Linked DNA regions of Homo sapiens. The protein of the gene in region 6 purifies or fractionates together with the protein of the main gene of each other region. This does not show direct contact. Each region holds a gene or a part of one and is shown on either strand. Other genes may lie near its edges. The genes, in order: THEM4, CTSS, NIT2, KYAT3, TKT, GOT2 and PAK2.

What was found.
Region 1: the proteins of GOT2 (region 6) and THEM4 fractionate together in Homo sapiens (co-fractionation; one large-scale study listed by BioGRID). This does not show direct contact.
Region 2: the proteins of GOT2 (region 6) and CTSS fractionate together in Homo sapiens (co-fractionation; one large-scale study listed by BioGRID). This does not show direct contact.
Region 3: the proteins of GOT2 (region 6) and NIT2 fractionate together in Homo sapiens (co-fractionation; one large-scale study listed by BioGRID). This does not show direct contact.
Region 4: the proteins of GOT2 (region 6) and KYAT3 fractionate together in Homo sapiens (co-fractionation; one large-scale study listed by BioGRID). This does not show direct contact.
Region 5: the proteins of GOT2 (region 6) and TKT fractionate together in Homo sapiens (co-fractionation; one large-scale study listed by BioGRID). This does not show direct contact.
Region 7: the proteins of GOT2 (region 6) and PAK2 purify together in Homo sapiens (co-immunoprecipitation; one large-scale study listed by IntAct). This does not show direct contact.

What each region holds. Positions count from the first base shown.
Region 1 is NC_000001.11:151,888,198-151,892,968, forward strand, and holds part of THEM4 (acyl-coenzyme A thioesterase THEM4), read right to left. Parts: intron 1,177-4,771; coding exon 1,017-1,176; intron 187-1,016; coding exon 76-186; intron 1-75. UniProt on the Homo sapiens protein: Has acyl-CoA thioesterase activity towards medium and long-chain (C14 to C18) fatty acyl-CoA substrates, and probably plays a role in mitochondrial fatty acid metabolism. Plays a role in the apoptotic process, possibly via its regulation of AKT1 activity.
Region 2 is NC_000001.11:150,741,239-150,746,009, forward strand, and holds part of CTSS (cathepsin S isoform 1 preproprotein), read right to left. Parts: intron 1-4,771. UniProt on the Homo sapiens protein: Thiol protease. Key protease responsible for the removal of the invariant chain from MHC class II molecules and MHC class II antigen presentation. The bond-specificity of this proteinase is in part similar to the specificities of cathepsin L.
Region 3 is NC_000003.12:100,357,990-100,362,639, forward strand, and holds the end of NIT2 (omega-amidase NIT2), read left to right. Parts: 3' UTR 1-3,646; downstream 3,647-4,650. UniProt on the Homo sapiens protein: Has omega-amidase activity. The role of omega-amidase is to remove potentially toxic intermediates by converting 2-oxoglutaramate and 2-oxosuccinamate to biologically useful 2-oxoglutarate and oxaloacetate, respectively.
Region 4 is NC_000001.11:88,946,819-88,951,589, forward strand, and holds part of KYAT3 (kynurenine--oxoglutarate transaminase 3), read right to left. Parts: intron 2,460-4,771; coding exon 2,273-2,459; intron 1-2,272. UniProt on the Homo sapiens protein: Catalyzes the irreversible transamination of the L-tryptophan metabolite L-kynurenine to form kynurenic acid (KA), an intermediate in the tryptophan catabolic pathway which is also a broad spectrum antagonist of the three ionotropic excitatory amino acid receptors among others.
Region 5 is NC_000003.12:53,241,949-53,246,719, reverse strand, and holds part of TKT (transketolase), read left to right. Parts: intron 1-4,477; coding exon 4,478-4,595; intron 4,596-4,771. UniProt on the Homo sapiens protein: Catalyzes the transfer of a two-carbon ketol group from a ketose donor to an aldose acceptor, via a covalent intermediate with the cofactor thiamine pyrophosphate.
Region 6 is NC_000016.10:58,724,317-58,727,816, forward strand, and holds part of GOT2 (aspartate aminotransferase, mitochondrial isoform 1 precursor), read right to left. Parts: intron 1-3,500. UniProt on the Homo sapiens protein: Catalyzes the irreversible transamination of the L-tryptophan metabolite L-kynurenine to form kynurenic acid (KA). As a member of the malate-aspartate shuttle, it has a key role in the intracellular NAD(H) redox balance.
Region 7 is NC_000003.12:196,745,532-196,750,302, reverse strand, and holds part of PAK2 (serine/threonine-protein kinase PAK 2), read right to left. Parts: intron 1-4,771. UniProt on the Homo sapiens protein: Serine/threonine protein kinase that plays a role in a variety of different signaling pathways including cytoskeleton regulation, cell motility, cell cycle progression, apoptosis or proliferation.

The DNA.
Region 1 (4,771 bases), on a different chromosome or scaffold from region 6:
ATGGTGTCAAGATCTGCAACTGGGAACCTGACTTAACAACACCTAAGGATAAATAGAGAATTACTGTGAATTTACCTTTTATAATTGATGTTGAGATTGGCAGTCATGACGATTCCCCCAGCCATCATTGCACACATACCAACAGTAGCATCAATCATGGTTGCAATGGCACCTCCATGAATGAATCTAGTTACAACAGGAGTGGAGGAGAAATGTTTTCAGAAGTTCTGAAGATAGAGAGCCTCTTGAAAGAGAAAAATTATCCAAGCATCTTCACACTATTTACTTATGAAAGGTCCACTTAGCCCATGTTCAGTGTACTGAATGCCAAATACTATCTATGTCCCCAACTTTGTTTTGTTCACAGCATAATAATATAGTCTTAAGTATTTGTAATAAAACCAGAACTTAATAGTAACCAGATCGCAAGCAAGCAAAAAGCTAAAATGTAATTTAGAAAATTTATATTATGTTTTTATTATTAGTCAAGTGTGGTGTCATGTGCCTGTAGTTCTGGCTACTCGGGAGACTGAGGTGAGAGGATTGCTTGAGCCCAGGAGTTCGAGGCTGCAGTGAGCTATGATTATGCCACTGCACTTCAGCCTGGGCAAAGGAGCAAGGCCTTGTCTCACAAAACAAAACAAACTATACATATTCATTGTTTAGAAATGTAGGTAATGCAAATATGAAAAAAAAGAAAAAAATTTAGGACCCATAATACTACCCACCTAGTCAGTGACAAGCCACTGTTAACACATTAATGATATGCTCTCAAATTATACTCTATTGCCCTATGCCCTATAATATTATAATGCTCATATATAAAAATATTTAATCAATATTAATAATATAGATAAGATGTCCTTTAATAATGTATTATAAACATCTTTCCATGTCAATAAATATACATCTATGTGACCATTTGAAAATCTTTATTGTAGTCCATGTACAGGACACATGGGGGCAGTGTAAGATAAAAATCTTTTAGATCCACACTTTCAGGCTATCATTCTTACCCAGGTGGTCCTTCCAGGTAAGGGCCTCCTTGAAATAAGCAAACCATCCTTTTCTCAATGTCATTGTAGAACATCACGTATTCAAAGCCCAGGCCATCATCAAAGCTTCTGGTGAAGAGCTGGGCCTGTGACATTTGTTCTTCTTTCATAAGCTTTGGGTCTATAGAAAATGAGGTGGATGGCAAATGAGAAACAAGGGTGAGAGAAATGCCATGGCAGAGCCAAGCACCTGTACCCTGCTAGAATCACATGTCAATAGATGATTGATTCAAATGTCCACAGGGTGCAAAATTGAAAGGAATGGGAGCGTCTCAATGAAACAGAAGATAGGATCTTTGCCCTTGTGGAATTAACAGTCCAACTGGGGACAGAGTAAACAGACATGAAATCAAAATGAAGTACCCACACATGGCAATCAGGAATATAGTATATAAACGCTAACAATATACTGAATAAAATGGTACGGTAAAGACGGAAATCCTTCTTGGAAGAACTGTGGTTTAAATGCAATTTACAGAAAATAAAAAATGTAACAGAAAGGAGGTTTCCCTGGCAGACATGAGTTGAGTCTGAATCAGCAACAGGGTCAGTTCAGCCCAACACTCAAGTGATTGTGACTCTAAGCCCCCAAAACTGGCAGTGAGAACCATTAGGGTTCATGAAATCAGATTGTGGGTTGTAACCAGGCTTCTTTTTTTTTTTTTTTTTTTTTGACAGAGTTTCACTCTTATTGCCCAGGCTGTAGTGCAATGGCGTGATCTCAGCTCACCGCAACCTCCGCCTCCCGGGTTCAAGCGATTCTCCTGCCTCAGCCTCCTGAGTAGCTGGGATTACAGGCGCCCACCACCACGCCTGACTAATTCTGTATTTTTAGTAGAGACGGGGTTTCTCCGTGTTGGTCAGGCTGGTCTTGAACTCCCGAACTCAGGGATCCGCCTGCCTTGGCCTCCCAAAGTGCTGGGATTATAGGCGTGAGCCACAGCGCCCGGCCATTAACCAGGCTTTAAAAAGAAACAGAACACTTAGTTAACAGAACCATATACTCTGGGTAAGTAATAGTGCACTTGTTTAGACACAGTTTTTTTTCACTTACACAATTGTGAGCAAGTTGGGGGAACTGGATTGAATCAAAATATAGGTCACTTCAAAATAAAGATTGAAAGCCATTGCTCTCAAGAAATAGTGCATTTATCCTTTTGTATCTATTTTAAAATTTAATCCCCCTACTCACCTTTCTTTCATAGCTCATCATGATTTGCCATATATAAAACTGTTTATTTCTATTGAATTTATATTTACAAACGTGGAAAAAGATACAGATGAGAAGATCCAGGAGAAGTGGGGAGAGGGACAGGAAGGATGCATTTGAATTAGGTCATGAGCATCTCAGGGCAGGCACCCTGTCTTTTAGACTTTGCATACCCAACAAATGGCACAGATGTGCACATACTATATACACTTAAGCAGTTGTTGAGTGAATTGATGGTTTAGAAGGACAGACAAGGAACCTTAAAATTGGGGATCAGTATTATGGTGCAGTGGAAAGAACCTTGGCCCGTGAGTTGGGAAAATTAAATTATTGGCCTACCTCTGGCCTAGAACTCACTCTTTTGCACTACACTTTATCCATACAATGAGGAGATAAAACAAAATGAGCTCTAAGATCTCTTCCAACTCTGACATTCCAGGACTTCAGGATAAGATAGGTGTTAAGTGCTTATAATTGTTTTACTTAGGAGTTTGAGATTTCTGGTCTAGATTGGCAAACCTTGAGCTTATTTCATAAAAATGAGAAAAATAAGGTCTGGGTTGAGTTAAAATGTAGGTCATTTCAAAATAAAGACCAAAAGCTACTACTCTCAAGAGGATGTGTTTGTCCTTTGTGATGGTGAAAGAAGTTTGTTGGAAATGCAGAATCTCAGGTTCTACTTCTGACCTTCTGAAGCAGAACTTGCATTTTAACAAGATTCCTAGGTGCTTCATATTCATTTTTAAGTCTGAAAGGCAAGAGTATTTTAAGAAATGGGATAGCACTGAAAATAGCATTGGAATAACATGATGAGATTTGCATTTTGAATCATTCTGACAGTTGAGTGGAAGAAGGGCTTTGAGGAGGATAAGAATGGAGACAGGAGATGAAACTACAAAAATCACAATCACCAAACTTATCTGCTAGATGGGGTGATTTTCTCTAGCAATGCTTAACTATGTGAAAGCCAGTTCAAAGTAAAGATGGCAGATGGTTGGATTCATCCAGGGCTGGGGTTTTCCTAGGTTAGGTGGGCTACAAAAGTTCAGATAGATGAGGGCTATTGGACCATGAGAAAGTAAAGGATTCAATGAACTCAGAAGGTCTTAATGAAATAACAATTGTTTCTGAGGGGCCTTTGAACAAGTAAGCTGCTGAAAGGAAAAATGCTGTCATCAGAAAACAGGATGTTTAAATGTATGCATTTGGAGGCTGTGTACTGTCTGAAGATAAGGCTCGAGATGTTCATGGCAGTGTGTGGCTGGGGCTGGGGGATAAGAAAAGTTCATAGGTGATGAGGAAGCACATAAACTGAGGAGCCACTGTGTAGATGCTCGAGTTGCTGAGGATGCTGAATGGAGTTGGGTAGATAGCGGACCAGCTGCTGAAATACTCAACACTGAGGGAGAGGTTGACAGATGACAGCAACAAGGAGGAGAAGAAGAGGAGGGTGACAAAGTTAGATGGTATAAACTCAAAGAAACAGAGGTTTTTTGTTTTTGTTTTTTTTTGAGACAGAATCTTGCTCTGTCACCCAGGCTTGTCTCAAACTCCTGGCCTCAAGTGATCTGCCACTTTGGCCTCCCAAAGTGTTGAGCCACTGTGCCCAGCCCAGAGGGCTTTTTAAGATGAGGGGAAGTAATGGTTTGAAAACAAGTGTGGGTAGCAAAGAGGATCTCAAACTCCTCTTGATTCTGAGAGGGTCAAATTTTAGTCAAGAGCGAATGAGGGTTGGATGAAGAAATGAGCAAAATGTAGGAATGGAACCCTGGAAAACATTGACATTTAAGGAGCAAGTAGAAGGAGGAGGGAAGATTGGTCTGAAAGGTTTATGAAAGCCAAAAGAAAATGTTTCAATGAGAATGAGACAGGGAGGTCTAGTACAGTAAGTGCTGAAGAATGCACACTGAATTTGGCACTTCCGTCACTAGTGGCTTCAATGAAGACATTTCAGTAGAGCTGTGAGGGTAGAAGCCAGATTGTGCTGGGATAAGGACAGTCAGTTGTGTGATGTGCTAACAGTTGGAAGAGAATAAGTAATACAAACTACACATTTTTCCTCTTCATTTATAAAACAGAATAATTCTTCCCTCGAGATATATCAGAGATTCTGCAAAGAAACTTAAGAACTCTATAATTTTTCTTGATTAGTTTTATTTTTGTTTTATTCATTCCTTCAGCAAATACTAAAGTATCTACCATGAGGAAACTGAGGCACAGAAAGGTAAAGTGCCTTGCTCAAAGTTGCACAGCTTTAAATTGTGGAACCAGAATTTGAACCCAGGCACTAAATTTCAACCATTTAATTAAGAAGTTGTCAACTTCTGGATGGTCTCTAAAGCTGAGAGACTGCATGAGATTACCAATGGAGTGTGGAGAAGAGAGGAGTACTAAGGACTGAGACTTGAGGGCACCCCAACATGAAGGGTTTGAGGATGGGGAAGAGCCAGCCCAAGAAACTGAAAAGGAGGCACCAGTGAAGTGGAGAATGTGGTGTCCTAGAAGT
Region 2 (4,771 bases), on a different chromosome or scaffold from region 6:
CCTCCTGCCTTGGCCTCCCAAAGCTCTAGAGTTATAAGCATGAGCTTACCACATTCAGCTAATATTTATACTACATATAAATTTTGTATTTATGTGTATCTTTTTTCATTTAAATATATATCCCAAGTATTTTATTAGGTTATTAATAATAGTCTGAATAAATCTAATGCATGGAGTTGATTATGTCATAGTTTATTTAATCATATACCTATTGTTAGGCATTTTTGGCTACTTACTAGTTTTTACTATTAAATAATAATGCTACAATTCACATAAGTTGTGTATGAAAGTTTTCCCATATTTAGGATTATTTTCTTCATATAGATTCCAAGAAATAAAAGTAATGGGACACTGGCTGTGCGCAGTGGCTTGCGCCTGTAATCCTGGCACTTTGGGAGGCCAAGACAGGCAGATCACCCAAGATCAGGAGTTGGTAGACCAGCCTGGCCAACATGGTGAAACCCCATCTCTACTAAAAATACAAAAATTAGCCAGGTGTTTTGGTGGGCACCTGTAATCTCAGCTACTTGGGAGACTGAGGCAGGAGAATCACTTGAACCTGGGAGACGGAGGTTGCAGTGAGCCGAGATTGTGCCACTGCACTCCAGCTTGGGAGACAGAGCGAGACTCTGTCTCAAAAAAAAAAGGGGGGGGGAAGAATATGAACATTTAAAAAGTTCTTTATCATATTGTCAAATTGCTTCCAAGAAAGAGAATAGGCAGGGTAGGGTGGCTCATGCCTGTAATCCCAGCACTTGGGGAGACCGAGGTGGGCAGATCACGAGGTCAAGAGATCGAGATCATCCTGGCCAACATGGTGAAACTCCATCCAACATGGTGAAACTCCATCTCTACTAAAAATACAAAAATTGGCTGGGCATGGTGGCACATGCCTGTAGTCCCATCTACTCGGGAGGCTGAGGCAGAAGAATTGCTTGAACCTTAAAGGCAGAGGTTGCGGTGAGCTGAGATCATGCCACTGCACTCTAGCCTGGTGACAGAGTGAGACTCCATCTCAAAAAAAAAAAGAATAAATACAGCTTACTTTCCCATCAAACTGTATAAGAATGCCCATTTCACCAAGACAGGTGGGATTTCTATAGACAGCATTGGACTTCACAGGCATTTCAGAAAGATACAGCATATATAAAGAAACAGAGGTAGGGATGTATCTGTAAACTTAGGGAATGATGAATAAGTAGTTCACTGTGGCCAGAGTATGACTGTGGGTATATGAAAATATAGTGGAAGAAATGTCTAAGGTTATGTTAAAAGCTAGATAATGGAGTACCTGGAATGCCTGGCCAGGAGTTTGGACTTCATTTTTAGACAATGGTGAACTATTCAGAATTTTTGAGCAGGAGTTGACATGATCTATATTTTAAAAAGATACCGCTATAGCTGGGTAGAATGGAATCTGAATTACAGCAGGGCCATTGGGAATGGCAAAGAGAAAATACATATAAAATATGATTCACAGGCCAAATGGATAGGGCTGGGTGGGTTGAGGGGGGAAAAGGAAAAGGCCAAGATGATGCTTAGGCTTTAATAATCTGAAGATGGTAATATATTACCCAAAATAAGGAATAGTTTTCCCTTGAGCTTGTTTGAAAATCCTTTTCAGGGATGAGGGAAGAAAGGAAGAGAAGAACATTGTAAACTTATTGAGTATGAGAGTGTGTATATGTTGGTAGTAGGGTGATGTAGGTGGGGAGTTTGGATTTTTCAAGGAGAGCTGCCAAATTGGAAGTTGGACAAGGAAGTGTGTCACTTAGGAGGTCATTTTCAGAGATTATGAACTGGGGATCATCTACATAATGGCAATAGTTGAAACTGAAGGAGCAGGTGAGTTTGCTTTGATATAGATGAGTTTGCTTTGATATAGCAAACTCATGTAACAGGCAGGTGGATAAAATAACGTAAGATATGAGGCTAAAGTTGATGTAGCAAAATGAATCAAGATAGTGAGAAATGTGCCATTGCATATGTTTTTTGGGTCATTGAGAGCAACTTTCCAACCTCTAACACACTTTCCTCCTCCAATACATGAACAATTCCATACATCTGGAAACTTGATTCAAATAGTGTCTTCTCTGTGGAGGTTTAGGCTGTTAGGCATTTCCTCTTCAACAGTCCCATAGCCATTTAGACATGTATCATTATACCACGATGTGTTTGTTGTATCGTTTAAAAATACATCTAGGCTGGGTGCGGTGGTGGCTCACGCCTGTAATCCCAACACTTTGGGAGGCTGGGAGATATATATATATATATATATATATTTATAAATATATTTATATTTATATATAGAGAGATTTATATGTATGTATACATAATATATTATATATGTATATTATGTATACATAATATATTATATATGTATATTATGTATACATAATATATTATATATGTATATTATGTATACATAATATATTATATATTATATGTATATTATGTATACATAATATATTATATATTATATGTATATTATGTATACATAATATATTATATATTATATGTATATTATGTATACATAATATATTATATATTATATGTATATTATGTATACATAATATATTATATATTATATGTATATTATGTATACATAATATATTATATATTATATGTATATTATGTATACATAATATATTATATATTATATGTATATTATGTATACATAATATATTATATATTATATGTATATTATGTATACATAATATATTATATATTATATGTATATTATGTATACATAATATATTATATATTATATGTATATTATGTATACATAATATATTATATATTATATGTATATTATGTATACATAATATTTATATATTATATGTATATTATGTATACATAATATATTATATATTATATGTATATTATGTATACATAATATGTACACATAATATTTATATATTATATGTATATTATGTATACATAATATTTATATATTATATGTATATTATGTATACATAATATTTATATATTATATGTATATTATGTATACATAATATTTATATATTATATGTATATTATGTATACATAATATTTATATATTATATGTATATTATGTATACATAATATATTATATATTATATGTATATTATGTATACATAATATATTATATATTATATGTATATTATGTATACATAATATATTATATATTATATGTATATTATGTATACATAATATTTATATATTATATGTATATTATGTATACATAATATATTATATATTATATGTATATTATGTATACATAATATATTATATATTATATGTATATTATGTATACATAATATATTATATATTATATATGTATATTATGTATACATAATATATTATATATTATATATGTATATTATGTATTATATTATATATTATGTATATTATAGATTATGTATGCATACATAATATGTATTGTATATTATGTATGCATACATAATATGTATTGTATATTATGTATGTATATATAATATATATTATATATATTTTTTCATGTTAGATTGTGAGTGCCTTTAGGACAGGATGGTTTCTTACTATTTTTTGTATCTCCAGGGCCTAGATAATGCCAGTCACATTGTAGATGCCTAGTAAGTGCTTGTTGAATGAATGAGTGAAGAGAAGCAGATTTGAATTTCAACACTAAAAGATATAGATGATCTTCAAGAGCAACTTCAGTAGAGAAGGGAATTTAGAACACCTGCCGTAGGGAGTTCCTTAGAGAGTCAATAAGATATGAGGGAAATAGTTTCATTTTAAAAAGCTATCACTGGTCTACACCCAAGCTGATCAGTGCTGTGAATAGGTTATCAGTGAACCAAGATATTGATCCCCTCAGCTACTTTCCCCATGGGCCATACGAATATCATCATCTTCTATGTGTGCCACAGTGGGAAAAGGGTAGGAAAGCACCTTTTGTTTGATTTGTAGACTATGTACTTCAAGTAAAGATTTAAGGGGTGTTATGGGTTGCATTGTGTCCCCACAAAATTCATGTTGGAATCCTAACCTCCAGTACCTCAGAATGTGAACTTATTTAGAGATAGGGTTGATGTAGACATAATTAATTAAATTAAGATGAGGTCATTAGGGTGGGTCCTAATCCAACATGAATGATGCTCATGAAAAGGGAAAATTGGCCAGGCGCAGTGGCTCACACCTGTAATCCCAGTGCTCTGGGAGACCAAAGCAGGAGGATCACTTGATCCCAGGAGTTTGAGACCAGCCTGGGAAACATAGAGAGATCCTGTCTCTACAAATAGAAATTAAAATTGGTCTGGTGTGGTGGTGCATGCCAGTAGTGCCAGCTACTTTGGTGGCTGATGTGGGAGGATTGCTTGAGCCCAGGAGTTTGAGGTTGCGGTGAACATTGATCACCCCACTGCACTCCAGCCTGGGTGACAGAGTGAGACCCTGTCTCAAAAAGGGGAAGAAAGTAAAATTATGAATAGAGACAGAAATGCATACAGGGAGAATGTCATGTGAAAATGAAGGCAGAGGTCAGGGTGATTGTCCTAAAGGCTGAGGAAAGTCAAAGATCACCAGCAAACTTTCAGAAGCTAGGGGAGAGGCATCAAACTTTTTTTTTTAATTAAAAGAACATATTTAATTGACAGATTGTATAAACTCAAGGTATACAGTGTGATGACTTGATGTATGTGCACATTGTGCAATGATTGACATAATCAAATGAAATAACACATCCATCTCCACCCGTGCTGTACCTTTGATTCCCAGAATCTGTTCATCTTATACCTGAAAGTTTACA
Region 3 (4,650 bases), on a different chromosome or scaffold from region 6:
CTGATCTCGAACTCCTGGCCTCAAGTGATCCACCAGCCTTGGCCTCCCCAAAGTGTTGGGATTACAGACGTGAGCCACGGCACCCAGCCTTTTGTTTGTTTTTGTTTTTATGTATTTCATTAAATGAATTGTCCTTTTAGTGGTATATCAGGAGATCTTGCCTTCTGGTACTCTTGAAAAATATGAAAAGAAACAACTGAAGTAGGCATCTCCTATAATTAGTATGTAGCATTTTATTCTCAGAAAATGTGTGGTAACCTGGCCCTGGATTTTACCTTTTTGCAAAGTGATATCCGAATAAAATGAACACTAGATTCCCACTTGGAGTGGAAGAACATTGCAGTTGAGGCCTTGGGTAAGTTTTAACTGCCATACCCCTGTACTCCCCGACTTTCTAATGAATTAGACAATGATGTTTTATTTTTGTTTTTTGTTTTTGCATAATACTTTGAAGTCTGCTATCACAAGTTGTGAACCTCTATCTCTTGCAGTTTAGGTAAGGCAACACATTTAATGAATTCACATTTAAGTGAATTCCTCACAGGGATGACGACCTCTGTTGAAATAGGTCAGGATGTGCAGTTTGTGGTGAAAGTTCTACTTGACTTTGACCTAGCTGTTTGAAGCTGAGAGCTAACAGATAATAAGTGTTGCACTGGTTGCAAATGAATAAATAAGTAACATTATGGGGTTTTAAATGACCAAGGAGTAGATTGTGACATCGACTGGGTATTTAGGGAAGGACTCCTTCCTGATACCAAAAGTTAGGTCTGTGCAAAGTACACCAAGTGGAAAAAAGTTTAGACAAGAGTTTAGGTTTCAAGATAAATGTTCTGCTCTATTGGCACTGGTTTTAAGTCTTTTGTGCTACTTTTTAGGCATTGCTGTGTAAGTTTTGGTGGTGCGTGGGTACAATGAAGCCAGGAGGGATAGAAAGGGAAATGATGTGTGTGCTGCAGGCTAAACAGGGGCTCTTCCTTATGCCTCATAACCACCTGTGTGTGACAGTTTCACATTTCCTATCAAATTATTATCTTCATTCATTTCTACTTGTGAATGAAGTTCGGAGACTAAGAAAAAGCCAGCTGTTGGAATAGAAAGCACTTTAGGATAAAATGGTCTTGTTAAAATCACCAATTAAAAAGTTAAGCCCCTGATGTACAAATAACTAAAACACATACATACAAAGACAGTGCTTCTTGTTCAATGATTTACTTCACAGCTGATTCATAATCAAATGAACAAGAATCTGCAAGAACAGAACATGGTGGGCAGGGTCCAGTAATTCCAAATGTTGTCATCCTAGCTCTTCCTGAAGCATATTGAATCCTCCAAGTATATCCCGTTGTGCTAACTAGGCTTTAAGTCTTTTGTCTGTAGATTCATTCTCAAAGTTTCTCCCTCAGAACAAAGAGCACGCCATCCTGTAAAGTACTCTTCCTGATTTTTTTTCACCCAATTTCTTAGTTTCTTTCAATTGCTTTTCAGACCCCGGCAGGCAGATTCTGCCCTCATCTGTCCAGTGACACTCTTCTGGCAGATTACTAAAGACCGATTTGTAGACCTGTCCATGTGGCCTCTCTCAACACCATTGGTGTGACCTTGCTCATACTGCCTCTCTCACCACTTAACATTGTCCCTTAGATGTTAAAGGCCCTTATATTAATAGTTTTATTTTAGCTCCTTTACATTTTATTTTGTCCTGAGGAATCTCAGCTACATGCATGGTCTTCAATATATGCCGATAATTCTCATTCACATAGCTCTCCTGTTGGCTTTTCCCCACTCGTTTAAAAACAACCACTTCACTTTGCTGGACTCTACCTTGAATGCCTCATTTTCAGCTCACACTCATGCTGTGCCTTTATTTAGATTTGTTGTGGTTGTTTCCCCACATTCTGGAAGCTCCTTACCTAAATCCTGTTTATTCCTTAATGCTTAGCACAATTTATTACTCTTGTTTCCATGGCACTACATTGTACTTCTGTTTTAGAGACTACCTTCCTCTGAAGCATATGACAGGTTCATTTACTATCCAGCCCACCAAAACTCAGTTTTTGAGCTCCTCTATGTTCATCTTTTTATGGCTAACCCTCACCATCATGAGTGCTTAGTAAATGTTGAGTTGGAATGAATTTATTCCTACAGGTTGCACTTGCTCTCTCACCAAGTGTTCTGGCCAAATAATTCTGGAATGATTTCCTTACCTTAAGGGAGTCTGATCTGGGAAGAGCCTGGGACGTGATGTAACTTCATATGCTGTAGAGCTGAATATTCATTTACTTAAGATCTTAGCTCCATTAGAAAGCAGTGAAAGCAGTGTTAATTCAGAGGCCGGGTATGGTGGCTCACGCCTGTAATCCCAGCACTTTGGGAGGCCAAGATGGGCAGATCACTTAAGGTCAGGAGTTCAAGACCAGCCTGGCCAACATGGCAAAACCCCATCTCTACTAAAAATACAAAAATTAGCCGGGTGTGGTGGCACATGCCTGTGATCCCAGCTACTCGGGAGGGTAAGGCAGGAGGAGGTTACAGTGAGCCAAGATCACACCACTGTACTCCTGGGCAACAGAGTTAAACTGTATCAAAAAAAAAATGCAGTATTGATTTAGAGCTAAGGTCACCTGATGCTCAGGCCAGTAATTTCTCCCTGCATCATGCTGTTGTCTAAGGCAGACACTGTAAAGCTCTACACTGCTGAAAAACTAAGCTTGAGATGCATAAAAGAACACATAGAGATGGGGAGTCAGTTCTCCATACATTTTGTGAGTAGAGGCATTGGTGTTTTGTTCCAAACTATCCAATCGAGAATGTTCATATAATGACAGCTTTGGAAGGTAGAGACTATCTTCCTCTGGATCATAGGACAGGTTTGTTTACTATCTGATACAGTCAAAATAGTGTTTCCCTCTAATGCGAAAGTCAGGCCAGTTTGCTTGTGACCTCATTAGATTTGGGCTGTGACGCAAACCCACTGCATGTGCAGTATCCACCTAGCTTGCCCTGTGTCACTCCCATGGGATCTGTGGCTCAAACTCATGTTGCTTGCTATGTTCTAAATAATTAAGTCTGTTGTCTGACCCAGGAGTCTCATGTCTTCTGCCAGCATTCAGAAAACTAGTTTTCAAGAAGGGTAACATCTTAGACCTTTTACAGCTCTTGACACAGAGCAATATTGAGAAATAAAATCAGGTAAAAGTTATTTAATATAGCAGTTCATAATTTAGGCCATGGATCATCTCTGCAGAGAATCCTACCATGCTGCATTCTTGCTTTAAACCTTTCGCCCTCTAAAACAATGCCCAAGAGCCAATGTTAGTCATGGTCTTCCTGTATTTGCTCTAGGTAAGCTGTTTCATAGCCTTCCAGGACAACACTTGCACAGGTTATCTTTAAGCACCAACAAAAGAAATGGAGAAATTTGAGCCATGTATCCTGAGCTCTGAAAGGCAGCAATCATCTTGACCCCAAGCATACACCATGTTCAGCTTCCTCCCCTTGGCCAGGTACCACAGCTACTTCTATCCCAGTGATCAGCAGGCCCTCCAGCATGAAGACCTTTGAGAAGGATCTATAGCTGTCAACTCCTAATATGATTTGTGCACTATCACCTTGAAGTAAACCAGACTAGTTATTTTCATGCTAAGAGTCTGAAAACAGTGCCTTCTTTCTGATGTCTCTTGTAGAATATTGGCAGAGGGATCTCAATTTTTACTTTATACCTGAAGGGCAGCTTTTTGGTCTGATAGTTATAGTGCAATCATTCATATTTTAAATCACAAATACCCCCACTTGTTGATGAAAACTCCAGTCTGTGGCATGGGTGTACATTCACTGCCTAAACCATCTTTGGCCAAAATTTGTGTGTATATGAAGTCATTCTACTTTAGCATACTCAAAGGCATTCCTTTAAACCATTTATCTGCTTGTACACAATAGCCAAAGGAATATTTGTTACTATGGCTGATGTAATAAACTATCATCACAAATTTAGTGGCTGAAAAAAAACAAAGTTATTCTCTTTTACTTCTGGAGTCCAAATTCATGGGGCCAAAATGAAGGTGTTGGCACTCTGCTCTAGGGCAGGATCCGTTTCTTGCCTTTTCCAGTTTCTGGTAGTTGCCAACATTCTTTGGCTTGTGGCCACATCACCTCCAGTCTCTGCCTCTGTGGCAACACTGCCATCTCCTCTTCTGTCTAAAACCTTCCTCTTACATAGACATTTGTGACTGCATTTTAAGGTCACCAGATCATCTAGGATAATCTCCCCTTCTCAAGACCCTTCACTACATCTGCAAAGCCCATTTTTTGCCAACTAAAGTAACATTCACAGGTTGCAGGGATAAGGATGTGGCTGTCTTTTGGGGAATCATTACTCATCCTATCAGTGTGGTAAAGCTTGCAAGTAAATTAAAATTTTGTCACTTTGTTCACAAATCAATTTAGCAGAGGATGGGAATAGGACTAATTATAACCCGTATCCCCACAACAACTCCTAAGTTATTTCCTTATAAATACAAATTCCATACAGGACAGTCTTGGGTAATTGTTATTCTATACTCCTAAGTTTCCTGGTTTGGCTATATTGTCCTCCTGTTATAGTCTTATAACAATTAGTTGACTTCTACAGGTACAAACTACTATTTAAAC
Region 4 (4,771 bases), on a different chromosome or scaffold from region 6:
AGGAATCTTTGCTTGTCAAAGCCTCTTCTCTCACAACAAATGAAGAAATAAGCTAATGTGAAAGGAAGGAGAGTGTTTCAGTTTGAGCCAAACCTCATGTAATGAATTCTTATGACTGTATGTTGTCTTGGCATCCATTGTGAATATAAGTTGGTCTTTCTTATACCAGAAGCAGGGCTTAGTCACCCTTGACACAATTTCCACTTCTCTTCCTCCTCACAGTTCCTCAATGTAGTTGATTCAGATATCTGCCTGAGACAACCACCTCCTGGCGAGCACCTCACTGTGGTACAGCTAGATACAACCTACTTGACTCGCCCACTGACCCCCACCCTCCTCATGGACTGCCTAGATATGCCACAGTGACCACCTCTCAGTCACAGCCTGACACCATGAGCTTGTGCCTGCTCGCTCTAAACCCATCTGTTAGAAGTCTCTGCAGGAAACCTGCTTGGGTAACACCTTGGGCCCCCAAAAAGGCTTTGGCCCACAGATCCCACTCTCTCTCTGTTCCCCACCTGCTGGTTGAGTGTGTATATCCTGGACCACTCCTCACTTCCCATTGGTCCCGGGAGGCCTGCTGCCTCTTCTGTGTCCCAACTGACCAACACACCGGAACCTAACTCTCCTCCTCCTAGAGAGTGGCTATCTCTGTGGAAATAAACTGGATACAGGTCAGATGAGAGCCACAAGGATGTCTGCCAGTATAAACCAGTTTCCAGGGATGTCTGGTCATGGGTCAGACACTTAACATCAGGCCATCTGCCAGGATAAACAAGTAGCCCATGAAAGGCACACTGCAAACATCCAGGACCTCCCCTGGAGCCCCATCAGGGAACAGCTAGAGTTTACAGCCACTTTCCAGAGAGACAGACCTGAAGACCAAATTATAGGAAAATCATAACACCTTACTTTTCTGAAATTTGCTAAGATGATAATGAACTATTACAAGTAAAAATTGCTAGCATCAAATGCTTATAGTAAGAAAGAACTCAGCCAGTGGCTCATGCCTGTAATCCCAGCACTTTGGGAGGCTGAGGCAGGTGGATCACTCATTAAGCTCAGGAATTCATGACCAGCCTGGGAAATGTGGCAAAACCTCGTCTCTAAAAAAAATTTAAAAATTAGCTAGGTGTGGTGGTGCATGCCTGTGGTCCCAGCTACTCAGGAGACTCAGGTGGCAGGATGGCTTGAGCCCAGGAGGCAGAGGTTGCAGTGAGCTGAGATCACGCCACTGCACTCCAGCCTGGGTGACAGGGCCAGACCCTGCCTCAAACAAAACAAAACAAAACAAAACAAAACAAAACAAAACAAAACAAAACAAACTCCTATGTGAAGGATGTAAAGTTAAAAAATATGATCAATGTTTTGCTATAAAATTGAAAATTTCCTTTACTCTTTCCAGCTTTATACAATTTAGTATAAATAAAACACTTCAGTTTTTCAAGTTCATTGGCATATAACTTCATTGTAATAAAATTTTAAAACATTTAAAACTATATTTAGAATGGCTGTAATTTCTGTCATGATAAATTAGGCTTCAAGGTTTACTATTACTAATTTTTTTAAAAGAAAAGTTATATATGACACATTATCATGCTTCTAACTTTAGATTTGTATGGCATGTCAGAATTACATATAACAGCTTTAGGTAATATAAAAAACAATGCTTTTTGGAAACAGAACTATTTAGAATCTAGCTGTGTGACTTCAGGGAAGCTATTTAAAACTTTCTAAATCTTTTTACCTGCAAAAATGGAGCTAATGTTTTCTTCAAAAGGGTGTTTTGAGTACGTGGCACAAAGTAGACCCTCAATAAGTGTTATTCTCCCATTTATTTTATTTCAGTACATTCTAAAATGGCAAATATTCCCTGATAGCTTCAAAATTTCTAGATATTTTTCTAATGAAATAGTACATTTTGTTAAGTAAAAAGGAAACTACAATTTTACTCAAATGAACACTGAGTATATAATATTATTTCACACACTTGTGTTTTAAAATTACACACCAGAAGAGAGTGATAGCAAATCCTATGTTTAATAGACTAACTAGAACAACACTGACTCCATAACCATTTAACAATGGTCACATTTAAGGTAAAAGGCCTAAAAGTAAAGATAATTATAGAAAATGTAGACATTGCAAAAATCCATCCTTCTCCACAGATAAAATGCTGCTGTGGCTTTGACACCAATCTTTTCTCCATAATTCTGATATAATTTCACACATAAGTTTCCGTATAGTTGAAATAATAAAAGCCTTTACAAACCTAGCAAAGACACATCAGCGATGATGAAGTATCCTCCATCAGGAACTATGGGTTTTAGGCCAACACTTTCAAGTAAACGTACCATCCGATCTCTTTTTACTTCTAACTCTTTTGGCAAAGAATTAAAGTAACATTCTGGGTCATCCATGCGCTTGATGTCAATCCAGAAAGCTTGAGCCAAGGCTTCCTGTTTGTTAAGAATCAAAAAATATGAAAAGGCATATGGCAATGTTATTTATTGCTTAGTTTATTGGTATAATAAATAGAGATGATCTGAGTAAAATTATTGGCAAAGAAGTCACTCAGGAAATAACAGTTGAATTCCTGTGAACCTATATTAAACTCTATAGGTTAATGGAGGAATCAGTTATACCTAAATGATTAAATCTCATGTGAAGAACTGAGAAGGAGTCCTGAAAATTCAAATTGAAAAAGAGCTGTTACTTAAAGGTGGCTTGCTTGGAAACAAAAAGACATTAAGATATTTTCTGCTGAGGTGAGTTGTAGAATGACTTGCTAAATCTAAGTCAGAAGAACAACCAGAGAGTAGTCAGCCTCTCACCATTACATTTGGGGACAGAGTGGAAATGAAAGCTCACCTACTGTGCAAAGGAGAAATGTGCCTTTCTTATTCTCCATAGGTGTGGAAATCCTTGCTGGAATTATTCATATGCCAGGAAGTTGGTCAAAGTGTAAGAGGGACTAGAAATGAGTTTCTGGAACATCTACAGTAATTCCTCTATCTTTCTTCAAGAGCCAGGACAGCAAACTGGGCCAAGGAAAAAGCCAATGTTGTTAAGTATAGTGGACTGAATGTTTGTGCCCACTCTCATATTCATATATTAAAATAGTAAACCCCAAGGTGATGGTATTAGGAGGTGGGGCCTTTAGGAAGTGATTAGGACAGAAGGGTAGAGCCCTCAGGAACAGGATTAGTGCCCTTACAAAGGAGGGTTAGCTTGCTCCTTCCACCATGTAAGGACACAGCAAAAGGCACCATCCGTGAAGAAGCATGTCCCCACCAGACACCAAATCTGCTGGTGCCTTATCTTGGACTTTGCTGCCTCCAGAACAGTGAGAAATAAATTTCTGTTGTTTATAAGCCACCCAGTCCAACTAAGACATTAAGGACCAGGCAGGTAAGAGAGACTGTGTGGCAAGAGATGAGACTGGAGACAGAGAGGGGCAAGATCACAGAGATTTTATGCCAAAAGAATGCAGTAAAACAGAATTAGTAATAAATCTCCAGTACTACAAAATCTTGGAAAATAAGGATCGATTGCCTTAGCCTGGAAATCTGTGGTTTCCTGGAACCAAACATGGTTGTCCCAGGACAAAACAGAGCACCTAGCTGAAATGGAGAATAAGAGTGTTCAGAAAAAGATGTTCTGCATTCTTAGCTATATCTTTTTTTTTTTTTCTCTTGGCAACTTGTTCATTTACTATAGGAGATACTGCCTTAGAAAATTCCAAGTATAAGGAGACATAAACATCCATCCTAACTACAGCATTATCCTGGACTCCTTTCTTTTTCACATATCCCATATGTAACCTATTGACAAATAATGTTGGCTCTACTTTCAAAATATATTCAGAGTCCAATCACTTTTTACTGCTTCTACCACCCCCATCTTTGTTCAATGCACTGGCATTTCTCTCTTGGATCACTGTAACAGCTTTCTCACTCAATGAGGCAGTCAGAGTCCATTTGCTAACACAAGCCAGACCAAGTCACTCCTGAGTTCAAAACTCTCTAGTGACTTCCTATCTCACTCAGTCCTTACAGTGACATGCATGCCCCAGCTCCATTGGACTCCCAGCTACCTCTCTGATCTTAGCTTTTCCTACTCTTCTCTCAATCATTCCATTCCAGTCTCTGTGCTGTTCTCTGATATTAACATGCCAGCCAGGCTGTCTACCACTGGGCCTTTCCGCTTGTTCTCTCTGTCCAAAGGGGTTTTTCTCTAGGTAACCATGTGGCTGCTTAATCCCCTTCAGTTAGTTGTTCAAATGTTACCTTATCAGGGAGGCTTTCAAAGATTACCCTATTTAACACTGTATATCTCCCACCTGGAGCTTTATATCCTTCCTCTTCCCTATTTTATCTTTCTTCTTCATATCTATCAACATCTTTTTTTTCTTTCTTTTCTTTTTTTTTTTTGAGACGAAGTCTTGCTGTTGTTGCCCAGGCTGGAGTGTAGTGACACGATCTCAGCTCACTGCAACCTCTGTCTCCTGGATTCAGGCAATTCTCCTGCCTCAGCCTCCTGAGTAGCTGGGATTACAGGCGCCTGCCACCATGCCCAGCTAATTTTTGTACTTTTAGTAGAGACAGGGTTTTGCCATGTTGGCCAGGCTGGTCTCGAACTCCTGGCCTCAGGTGATCCGCTCACCTTGGCCTCCCAAAGTGTTGGGATTATAGGCGTGAGCCATTGTGCCTGGTTCTTTTGCCCTTTTAACTGCCTTCTAGAAAAATACTATTTTTTTCAGCATTTTGAT
Region 5 (4,771 bases), on a different chromosome or scaffold from region 6:
GCCACATGCCCGGCTAATTTTGTATTTTTAGTAGAGATGGGGTTTATCCGTGTTGGTCAAGCTGGTCTCAAACTCATGACCTCAGGTGATCTGCCCTCCTCGGCCTCCCAAAGTGCTGGGATTACAGGCTTGAGCCACCGCACCTGGCCTGTTTTCCTTGTAGTATATACAAAAAGACTTGTACATAAATCAATATGGTCTTCTTTGTTAAACAGATCCTTCTGCACTGTGCTTTTTTCACACTATATTTGGGAGAGAATATTGATACCGGATTTGTGAAGTGTAGCTCGCTCATTCTTACTGCTGTATAGTATCCCATTATATTAATATATTCCAGTTAACCTCGTCTATTGATAAACATATAAGTGAGTTCCAGGTCTTGCAATTGCAAACAATGCGGGGCAGCCCTGTTTGTGTTTCCTTTTTTTTGTTGTTGTTGTTGTTTTTTTCCTGAGATGGAGTCTCACTCTGTCACCGAGTCTAGAGTACAATGGCACGATCTTGATTCACTGCAACCTCAGCCTCCTGGGTTCAAGTGGTTCTCCTGCCTCAGCTTCCCAAGTAGCTGGGATTACGGGTGCCTGCCACCATGCCCAGCTAATTTTTGTATTTGTAGTAGATACAGGGTTTCACCATGTTGGCCAGGTTGGTCTCGAACTCCTGACCTCAGTTGATCCACCCACCTCAGCCTCCCAGAGTGCTGGGATTACAGGTGTGAGCCACTGTGCCCGGCCTGTTTGTGTTTCCTGTAGAATGTGTGGAACATGTGAGTACATTTCACTGTATGTTCCTACTGGTGAAGTTGCTGGGAGTTAAGGGATGTGCATCTTCGGCTACTGATCTGGTTTATTTTTAATGCTTGAAAGATTACTTAGGTTCTCTATTTCTTCTTGAGTCAGTTTTGGTAAATTATTTTCATTATTGTTATTATTTTTTAGACAGAGTCTCACTCTGTTGCCCAGGCTGGAGTGCAGTAGCATGATCTCGGCTCATTGCAACCCACGCCTCCGGGGTTCAAGCTATTCTCCTGCCTCAGCCTCCCAAGTAGCTGGGATTATAGGCATGTGCCACCACGCCCGGCTAATTTTTGTATTTTTAGTAGAGACGGGGTTTCACCATGTTGGCCAGGCTGGTCTTTGAGCCGCTGACCTCAGGTGATCTGCCTGCCTTGGCCTCCCAAAGTGCTGGAATTACGGGTGTGAGCTACCGCGCCCAACCTGACATCCATTATCTCTTGAAGGAGCCCATCTGGAGGGTGAGGGAGCCTCTCTGGCCTTTTCTTGCATAGAAACCTGTGAGCAGGTGGAGTGAGCACTAAAGCGATGACAGAGATTCTCCTGGCCAGGGGACATCTGGAAGAATATATATTGTCCTGGAGGGGAGTGGAGAGGGGGCTTTTTTTTTTTTTTTTTTGAGATGGAGTGTTACTCTTGTTGCCAAGGCTGGAGTGCAATGGTGCAATCTTGGCTCACTGCAACCTCTGGCTCCCAGGTTCAAGTGATTCTCCTGCCTCAGCTTCCCGAGTAGCTGGGATTACAGGCGTCCACCACCACACCTGGCTAATTTTTTGGTATTTTTAGTAGAGATGGGGTTTTACCATATTGGCCAGGCTGGTCTTAAACTCCTGACCTCAGGTGATCCGCCTGCCTTGACCTCCCAAAGTGCTGGGATTACAGGTGTGAGCCACTGCCCCCAGCCTGGAGGGGGCTTTAAGAGACTTTCTTTGGGCCTAGCTCTAAGCTTGCCACACCACCGTCACAGGTTGAACTAATTGGGGTTGTAAGTGGACTGTTTTGGTCAAGGCAGGGTGTGTTAGTTTTTTTTTTTTTTTTTTGAACAGTCAAGTGTGCTTGTTAGCCCTGTTTATCACAGAGTCAGGGTATACAGTAAGTACCCTGTAGCCCCTCCACCGTGCTCCTCACCCCATCTCTCGCCAGTGTTCACCCAGAGTTGTCACACACAGCACCACGGGATGGGGCGTCCACCTGCAGTTGTGCAGGCAGTCTGGAATGGCAGGAAAAACTCTGGCCCTGAGGAGGCCACAGGCTTAAATGTATGCCTTTGGCCCCAAAGGCCCGCTAGGAAGTTGAGCTTGAAAGTAACTGTCTCCTGTGTGCTCAGTGCTTTACAGTGTGCAGAGCCCGGTCTCAATCCTTGGTGTATTTCTCCCCTCTTGCCTGCCTGTGGCCAGCAGGAGTGGGTGGTGTCACCATCCCTGCCTGTAGATAAGAGCTGCAGGTGCTGAGAGGGTTGGCAGTGGTGGCGGCTGCTAGAGACCTGGGTACTGTGCATGCTGCGTTATCTCACTGTGTCTCCCAGACACTCTCCCAAGTGAAGAAGCTGAGCCCCGGGTTGACGAAGCACTTGTTGAAGTCACGAAGCCCAAGTGGCACAGCTCACCTCCCCAACCCAGGATGCTCTGCCGAGGGAGAGCCCCAAAAGCTCTGGGGAAGAGTGCGGGGACACCTGGCTCCTAAGCGTTCTTCTTTTGTGCGTGTTTACTTGGTAGAAGTGAAGAGAGTGGCCGCAGCAGGCTGGATGCAGCCTTTGGAAGGAATGAAAGGCTGCAGGCCTAGCAAGGAAGGCTTAAAATCAGCTGCACGTTCTACTTCTCACCCTTGGTCACCTCGCAGCTGACCTTCCTCTCTCCACGTTTACTCTATCTGGGCCTGGGTGTGCTTCTGCCACACACAGAAAGAGCCTGTGCCACACCATTTCTCCCTGGAACCCCTTCTGGTGGCCAATGGGACTGTCACCCCGGGGTGTCGAGGTGGATGGGGCAGGTGGAGCCCTGCACTTACCGTCCTTGTTCTTCCCCGGAACAGTTTGGCCCAGTGTCCACCCACATCCTTCTCCCACCAAGGATCCCTCCTAATGGGACCATGGCTTTAGAAACAGGACCCCTCAGGGCCGGGGCTGCCCTTGGAGGTGGGAAGGACGAGAGGTCAGCCTGAGGTGACCTCCAGTTGAAGCTGGCCCTGGGAGCGTGGGATTAGGGTGGCCTCCAGTTGAAGCTGGCACTGGGAGCGTGGGATTAGGGTCCCTGCCAGGCAGAAAAGGGTTTCTCGTTTACCATGTCCTCCCCTCCCTCTTTCAGGTGTAGTGTCTTTTCCCATGACCGGGAGTTCATAGAAATAGTTAAGTATAAGATGATCGTGTGCGAGAATGTTGGTACTAAACCAGCATGGACAGTTTTCTGGATTTCTCTACTACTAACTTGTCTGCACTGAGCGTGACTCACCCCTAACCTGGTGGGAGCGCTGATTGGAGGGGCGGGAGGCTGGCGGCGTGAGCTCCAGATGGTGCATGTGCCCTTGGGCTTGGCATGCGGCGTGTCTTCGTGTGAAGGACCTCTGGGAGCAGCGAGAGGGCTGAGCTGAGCTGAGCTGAGCTGCATGTGGAGGGGCCCTCCCGGGAGGCCTGTGCCCTGAGGCTGAACTTTTAACAAAACCCTGGGACCAGAGGGCTTCAGGGCTGATCAGGACCTGCAGCGCTTCCTGCTGGGAAGCAGGAAGCAATAGAAAGTTTACGCTTTCTATTGCTCAGGAGCCGCTCAGTGATTAAAACAAGTCTAAAAAGCCAAGGGGACTCCGTGGCCCCACCACTCCCAGGCTGGAAGGCAGGTTCTTGCTTTGTCAGCCCTTCCTCAGCCCTTGTCCATAGGCAGAAGGGGTTTTTATTAATACATGATTGTAGCCTTGTAGGAGATGAGATTATGTGTCTTGCTTTGAAAATTCTACACAAAAGCCTGTTTCCTAGTTGCTACAGCAGCCCTCAAACTGCCCATTTCTAAAGCTTTCAAGTAGCCCAGTGATGCAATTGGAAAGCCCAAGGCCCAGTTTTTCAGGCTACCACACCCCATGCGTGGAGGCTGCTGGGAGGTCTGTGGTAACTCCATGAGCCTCAGTCCCTTCCTCCCTGCCCCATGGGCTCAGAGGCCCAGCACCCCTGGGTGCTGAGAGGGCAGGGTGCCCTTCACAAGTGGGCAGTGTCCGGGCAGTCCTGTCAGGATGTGGGGTCAGTCGTAGGAATGCCGGCACCCCTTGGCTGCTGAGTCCTTAGACTCCTGGGGGCCACTAGGTGGGAACTGGGTTCTACCTGACAGCAGCTGCCCCCAGCCGCAGTGCTAGCCTTGGGCTGAGTCTTCTGTGCTAGATCTCTCCTGGGCCCCTCCTTCCTTCTTACTCAAGTCCAACCCCAGATATTTTCAGTTGCCGTGATTCTGAGGATCTGATGCCCCTGGAAAGGTACAACAGTCCCCAGCACCCACTAGCTGGCCCAGGCCCCAAACTGCCAGGAGTGGCCTTCTTGAGACCATGTGTCACCCTCCCAGGGAACAAGAGCTCGTGGCTGTCTGATAAGCCAGGCCTGTGTGACTCCTCAGGACATGCACCCCCAGGTCCCTGTACAGCTGAGCACAATAGCTCAGGAGTGCAGGGCCATGATGCCTGTGTCTGTCTTCTCTCCTGGGCCACAGCCACCCCACGTCATGCTGCAGCGCCGCAGAGATCATGGCTGTCCTCTTTTTCCACACCATGCGCTACAAGTCCCAGGACCCCCGGAATCCGCACAATGACCGCTTTGTGCTCTCCAAGGTAAGAGCCCAGCTGCCCACTGCCAGCCACACCTTGCCTGGGACTAGGGTCACACGGGCCCTGGAATGGTGAGTGGTCTTTGAGGAGACCTGGCTGGGCCCACCTCTCCCAGGTGCCTTCTCCCTGCTCGTCCTGGCCTCTCCCTCAGTGTCCTGCTCTGTGCTGACCCAGCTGGC
Region 6 (3,500 bases):
CTGTCACCCAGGCTGAAGTACAGTGGTGCAATCTTGGCTTACTGCAGTCTCTGCCTCCAGGGTTCAAACAATTCTGCCTCAGCCTCCGTGAGCCAAAACAGTATTGATTTACAGAAAATTGAGCAGATAGTACAGTCCCATATACCCTTACCCCCAGGTTTCCCCTATTAACATTTTACATTGGTATGGCACACTTGTTACAATTAATGAATCCATACTGATACATTATTATTATTATTTTTGAGACAGTTTCCCTCTTTGTCACTCAGGCTGGAGTGCAATGACGTGATCTCAGCTCACTGCAACCTCTGCCTCCCATGTTCAAGCGATTGTCCCACCTCAGCCTCTGGAGTAGCTGGGATTACAGATGACCGCCACCATACCCAGCTAATTTTTGTATTTTTGGTAGAGACGGGGTTTCGCCATGTTGGCCAGGCTGGTCTCAAACTCCTGACCTCAGGTGATCTGCTCGCCTTGGCCTCCCAAAGTGCTGGGATTACAGGCATGAGCCACCATGCCTGGTCCATACATTATTAGGTCCACACATTATTTAGATTTCCTTAGCTTTTACCTATTTCTGTTCCACGATTCCATCTAGGACACCACATTATGCTTAGTTGCATGTCTCCATAAGCTCCTCTTCGCTGTGACAATTTTGGGAATGCTGGTCAGGTATCTTGTAGGATGCCCCTCTACTGGAATTTGTCTGATGTTTTTCTTATTAGACTGGGGATAAGCTTTTGGGAGAACAGTAATTGTATTTTGTAATATGCCAGCTTGACAATTTCTTTCTTTCTTTTTTTTTTTTGGAGCTGGGGGATGGAATCTCACTCTGTCACCCAGGCTGGAGTGTAGTGGCGTGATCTTGGCTCACTGCAAACTCCGCCTCCTGGGTTCAAGTGATTCTCCTGCCTCAGCCTCCCAAGTAGCTGGGATTACAAGTGTCCGCCACTACACCCAGCTAATTTTTGTGTTTTTAGTAGAGATGGGGTTTTACCACGTTGGCCAGGCTGGTCTTGAACTCCTGACCTCATGTGATTTGCCCGCCTCAGCTTCCCAAAGTGCTGGGATTACAGGCGTGAGCCACTGCGCCTGGCCTTGAAGACAATTTCTAAGATCTTTAGGGTAACTTACACTTTTGGTCTAATATTACAATGAATTGATTAACAGATTATTATTCATTGTATACCTAAATAATTTCTAAGATAGACTACAGACACATTGATTACCAAGCATAATTTAAAATTTATATACCTTTGTTTATTTTTACATGCTCGAGAGGCTATAGCTTTGAGTCATTAAAATAAAAAGGTCTTTCTTTGTTGCCACTTTAAGGAGGTATAAAAGGGATACATGTGGCTGTAGAAGTTGTACTGCGTGTGTTCACGAGTTTTGCCAGTCTGTTTAGAATGCTTGTGTAGGACTGACATCACCACCCTCTCTTCTTAATTTTCTCTGGGAAATAGAAGCTACTTTGGTTAAAAGATAAGCAATGAGTGTTGAGACCACACTAGGATCAACAGTGACAAATAAATACAACTGTGTGTTTTTAAGGAAAAAGAGTAGTATTGGTCTAAAGCAGCAATTCTCAAACTTTGTGATCTTTAGATCCTGTTATACTCTTAAAACTTACTGAAAACCCCAAAGAGCTTTTATTTATGTGGGGTATAACTATTAATACTTACTGTATTAGAAAAACTGAGCAGCTTGTTATACTTTTTGATTCATTTGACAATAGCAATGATGGAAACACATTGCATGCTAACATAACTAACACAGAACATGTTCCCAGGGAGAACTACCATCCTAAAAGACCAGTTTGTTTTAAATATGAAAGAGCATATGAGGACAAAACTTAGTGAATTTTGTTTATTTTTTATTTTTTTGAGACGGAGTCTTGTTCTTGTCGCCCAGGCTGGAATGCAATGGTGCGATCTCGGCTCACTGCAACATCCGCCTCCCGGGTTCAAGCGATTCTCCTGCCTCAGCCTCCCAAGTAGCTGGGATTACAAACTCCTGCCACCATGCGCAGCTAATTTTTGTATTTTTAGTAGAGACGGGGTTTCGCCGTGTTGGCCAGGCTGGTCTTGAACTCCTGACCTCATGATCCACCCACCTCGGCCCCCCAAAGTGCTGAGATTACAGGCGTGAGCCGCCCCCGGCCTGCTTTATTTATTTATTTATTTATTTATTTTTGAGACGGAGTCTTGCTCTGTCACCCAGGCTGGAGTGCAGTGGCACGATCGTGGCTCACTGCAACCTGTCTCTGGGTTCAAGCGATTCTTCTGCCTTAGCCTCCCAAATAGCTGGGATTACAGATGTGTGCCACCCCGCCTGGCTAATTTTTGTATTTTTAGTAGAGACAAGGTTTCACCCTGTTGGTCAGGTCTCTACCTCCTGACCTCAAGTGATCCACCCACCTTGGCCTCCCAAAATGCTAGGATTACAGGCGTGAGCCACTGCACCCGGCTGTGAATTTTGTTTTGATTTATAGTAAGTGAATCTGAAAAGAAGCTGAGTTAACTTTTTTTTTCTTTTTTAAAGAGATGGATCTCGGCCGGGTGCAGTGGCTCACGCCTGCAATCCCAGCACTTTGGGAAGCCGAAGTAGGCGGATCACCTGAGGTCAGGAGTTTGAGACCAGTCTGACCAACACGGTGAAACTCTGTCTCTACTAAAAATACAAAAATTATCTAGGCAAGGTGGCGTGCGCCTTTAATCCTAGCTACTTGGGAGGCTGAGGCATGAGAATCGCTTGAACCCAGGAGGCGGAGGTTGCAGTGAGCCGAGAATGCACCACTGCACTCCTGCCTGGGCAATAGAGCAAGACTCCGTCTCAATAAACAAACAAACAAAGAGATGGGTCTCACTCCGTCCCCCAGGCTGAAGTGCAGCCTTGACCTCCTAGACTCAAGCCATCCTCCCACCTCAGCCTTTCAAGTAGCTGGGACTACAGGCGCACACAAGTTAACATTTTAACAAAGTTTGCCCAATCTTGATGGCCTAGTTTCCTTGGTTTAGTCATTAATGACTTCACCTACAATATAAAAGGTTTTTTTTTTTTTAAAAAAAGAAAAAACTGTGCAATCAGTTTAGAGTGTAGAGATTCTCTGCCTTGCCAGAACACTTTTCTAGGCTTTATGATCTTCTAAAGCAATCATTAAGAACATTATGCTAAGGGCTGGGAATGTAAAGAAGAGTACAACACAATCCCTTACCACCTGACTAGTACACTGTGGTGATCAGCAGAGATCTGCACGTAATGCAGGCTGGGCACTGCAGGGAGATGATGGATAGTGATACACACCTACCCAGGGCATTATTATGGGATATTACTTATGGGAGCCCTGAGCAGAGGACGTAATAGCTTGGAGAAGGGAAGGAAAGTACTGCACAAGGTTAGGAAGGCTTCCCAGAGGACGTGACTTAGCAGCTGAGTGCTAAGGCTGAAAGGAGGAGTAAAAGGGCTTTCCAAGAAGAGAATTAAGAATAAAGGCTCAC
Region 7 (4,771 bases), on a different chromosome or scaffold from region 6:
TTAGCCAGGTATAGGCCAGGCACGGTGGCTCACGCCTGTAATCCCAGCACTTTGGGAGGCAGAGGTGGATGGATCACCTGAGCTCAGGAGTTCGAGACCAACCTGGCCAATATGGTGAAATCCCATCTCTACAAAAAAAATACAAAAAATTAGCCAGGCGTGGTGGCAGGCGCCTATAATCCCAGCTATTTGGGAGGCTAAGGCATGAGAATTACTTGAACCCAGGAGGCGGAGGTTGCAGTGAGCCCAGATCATGCCATTGCACCACAGCCTGGGCGACAAGAGCGAAACTCTGTTTCAAAAAAAAAAAAAAGAAATAGCCAGGTAAGGTAGCGTATCTGTAGTCCTGGCTACTCTGGAGGCTGAGGTGAGAAGATCGCTTCAGCCTAGGAGCTCGAGGCTGCAGTGAGTTCTCATCGTGCCACTACATTCCAGCCCAGGCAACAGAGCAAGACTCTATCTCAAAAAAAAAACAGAAAACAATGAAACACTACTACCTATTGGAATGGGTAAAATCCAAAACAATGATAACATGACATGCTGGAAAAGATGTGAAGCAACAGGAACCCCCACATCCATTGCTGGTGGGAATGCAAAATGGTACAGCCACTTTGGAAGAAAGTTGAACAGTTTCTTACAAAATGAAATACATTCTTACCATACACTCCAGCCATCATGCTCCTTGGTATTCACCCAAATCAGCTGAAAACTTATGTCCACCCGAAAACCTACACATGAGCACTTGAATAGACATTTTTTCAAAGAAGATATACAAATGGTCAATAAGTACATGAAAAAATGCTCAACATCACTAACTGCTAGAGAAATGCAAATCAAAACTAACATGATACCACCTAATACCCATTAGGATGGCTACTATTAAAAACAACAACGGTTGTGTTAAAAAGGATGTAGAGAAACTGAACTGCTGTGCGCTGCTGGTGGAAACGTGAAGTGATACAGGCGCTGTGGAAAGCAATACGGTAGTTCCTCAAAAAATGAAACACAGAATTATCATATGACCCAGCAATTCCATTCTGGGTATGTACCCGAAATAACTGAAAACAAGGTCTCAAAGAGGTATTTGTACACCCATGTTCGTAGTAGCATTAATCTCAGTACCTAAATTACGGAAGCAATCCAAGTGTCTACTGATGAATAAATGGACAAGCAGAATAAGGTAAATACACACATGGGAATACTATTCACCCAAAAAAAAAAGAAAAGAACTTCTGACATGCTACAACACAGATGAAGCTTGAGGATAAGTGAAATAAGTCACAAAAACACAAAATATGATTCCACTTACATAAGGTACATAAGAGTAGCCAAAATCATGCAGACAGAAAGGAGAATGAGGAGTTATGGTTCAATGGGTATAGAATTTCAGTTTTGCAGGATGGAAAGTTTCGGAGATGGATGGTGGTGATAATTGCACACTATAAATGTATTTAGTACCACTGAACTGTATACTTCAAAATGGTTAAGATGGTAAGTTCTGTTACATGTATTTTACACCACAATAAAAAACTCCACACATCAATGTTTACAGCAGCTTTATTCATAATCACCAAACCTGGTCCTTCAATAGGTGAATGTACATCCAGACAATGGAATATTATTCAGTGCTAAAATGAAATGAGCTATCAAGCCATGAAAAGACACGGAAGAACCTCAGATGCATACTGCTAAGTGAAAGAAGCCAAGTTGAAAAGGCTACACGCTATATAATTCCAACTACGGGACATTCTGGAAAAGGCATTGCGATGGAGGTAGTAAAAGGATCAGCGGTTGCCAGGGGTTGCAGTAAAAGTGGGAGGAACAGGTGGAGCAGAGAGTTTTAAGGTGCGGAAACCAGTCGGTATGATACTGGTGGAGACATGTTGTTATACATTTGTCAAAACCCACTGAATGTACAATACCATACGAGCAAACCCTAACGTAAACTGTGGGCTTTGGGCAGTGATGATGTGTGAATGCTGGTTCACTGACTGTGCCAAATATACCACAGTGATGCAGGATGTTGATGAGCAGGAGGCTTGGAGAAGAGGGGCATGAGGAGCATGGGGTATATGGGAACTCTGTACCTTAGGCTCAGTTTTGCTGTGAACCTAAAATGCTGCAAAGTCTATTAATTAAAATGAATAAAAATTTCTAAAAATCATTAGAAATAAGAGAGTGACACTCAACCAACACATACTTATTTCATACCTATTTGTTCAAAGCTCTGTAAAACAGAATAGTATATTAAAGAAAACCAAATAAATGAAAAAGAAACTTCAGATGGAAGTGCTATAAAGGAAAATAAACACACTGAAGGGCAGGAAGTTAGATGCGGAGTGGGGGTAGGCAGAGGTGATCATGAAAGATCTCTTTCAAATATGGCCTCAGTGACATTCAGGCAGAAGAAATAAAAATCTAAAGGTCCCAACGTGAGAACAAGCTTCTCAGAAACAATGCTACCTCTTTGTCTTTGGCAGATTAGGAAGATTTTTACATTAATAAGAATTATTAATAACGACTATAGTTCTTACTAGGACTAATAAAGACTAAGTCCTATATTTAGTAAGAACTATTTATAAAAACTGGTAATTCATACAAATAATCTTAGTCATTAAATTTAATCAATAGGTTATGTATAAAACTCTGTATATTACCAACAGAAAATGTTCTAAGTTTTCATAGAACATTTTCCAAAATGGATTATGTTTTAAGTCACAAGAAACACTCAATAAGTTTAAAAGATATTTTAAAAGATTATAGAAGCTGACAACAATGAAAGAAAATATGAGTGAATAGAATTATCCTAAATACCTCCTGAGTCAAAGAGGAAATCAAAACTAGAACCACCAGCTATTTGGAAAATACTGAGCAGAAGAACATTGTCCATGTAAATTAGAATGTGCAGCCAACGCTGCATTCAAAAGCAAATTAAGAACATTAAAGGTTTTTATTATTAAAAGACATTAAAATGAACTAGCTTTGCACAGTGGCGGTATCGTAGCCAATGAGGTCTATCCGAGGAGCGATTACCGCTCATCGAAAACACATTAAAGGAACTAAGAATTCATTAAGAATTAATAACATTAACATTAACTTAATGTTAACATTGTTAACAACAAAAAAAAAAAGCAGGAGAGCAAAATAAAGAGAAAAGTAGAAATCAGGCATTCAGAAAACAAACAAAAAAAAACCAATACAATAAGTAAATCTCAAAGCTGGTTAGTAAAAAAAACCACTAAGTAGACAAACATTTGGCAAATTCAGAAAAATAGTGAAATCACTAATAAAAAAAAGGAAATGAATACCACAGATCTTAATGACAAAAGATTATACACACCTATATAGTAACAGATTTGAAAATCTAAAAGAAATGATCTAGGAAATACGAATTATCAAAAGTGACTCATGAATAAGGATTCCTGAATAGGTTATAGAAGTTAACTACAGAAGTTATCATAAAGGCCTATCCTTTTTTTTTTTTTTTTTAATGAGACAGAGTTTCACTTTTGTTGCCCAGGCTGGAGTGCAATGGCACGATCTCGGCTCACTGCAACCTCCGCCTCCCGGGTTCAAGCGATTCTCCTGCCTCAGCCTCCCGAGTAGCTGGGACTACAGGCACCTGCCACCACACCTGGCTAATTTTCTATTTTTAGTAGACACAGGTTTCTCCATGTTGGTCAGGCTGGTCTCAAACTCCAAACCTCAGCTGATCCACCTGCCTCGGCCTCCCAAAGTGCTGGGATAACAGGCATGAGCCACTGTGCCCGGCCTATTCTTATTAATCTAAATTTATATGAGATTCTCCTCTAACCTTTCAATAAATTCCGTACGCAGGACTAATATGAGTGGGATTTTGGTTATTCACGATATATACCTTGTGATACCTTTGATTAATAGCAAATTTACTATTACATATCCTCAGCAATAGTTAAAAGAAGAAAACCATATCATCATCTAAATGTTACAATAGCATCTCATAAAATTCAGAAGCCATTCCTATTTTTTGTAAAGCAGAAACAGAATAAAATAATAATCTTTCTCTAAATCCAACAGCTGCCATCATCCCTAACTGTAAAAATATTAATACCAGAGTCATTTCAAGACAACGACACGTCTCTTGTTTAACCAAGTCTTGGAACTTCAGGCCAATGTAATAAAGACCTAAAACAGGGTTAAGGGCTGGGCACGGTGGCTCATGCCTGTCCAACACTTTGGGAGGCTGAGGCAGGCGGATCACGAGGTCAGGAGATCGAGACCATCCTGGCTAATACGGTGAAACCCCGTCTTTAAAAAAGAAAGAAAAAGAAAAAAAAAAAAGGTTAAATATTGTAACCATAGAAAAGTGACTGAAGTTACTATTATTCTCAGATAAAACAATGAACCTGGAAAACAAAATAAAGACGTTTACTGAAGTCCAGTAAGATAATAAAAATACCAATGAACAGAAAAATCTAGTTACTACTTCTTCTTTTTTTTTTTTTACTTAGAGATGGAGTCTCGTTCTGTTGCCCAGGCTGGAGTGCAGTGGCTTGATCTCAGGTCATTGCAACCTCCGCCTCCCGGGCTCAGACAATTCTCCTGCCTCAGCCTCCGGAGTAGCTGGAACTACAGGTGTGCACCACCACACCCAGCTAATTTTTTGTGTTTTCAGTAGACACAAGGTTTCACCACGTTGGTTAGGCTGTTTCCAACTGCTGACATCAGGTGATCCACCCACCTAGGCCTCCCAAAGTGCTGGGATTACAGGCGTAAGCCACTGCACCCGGCC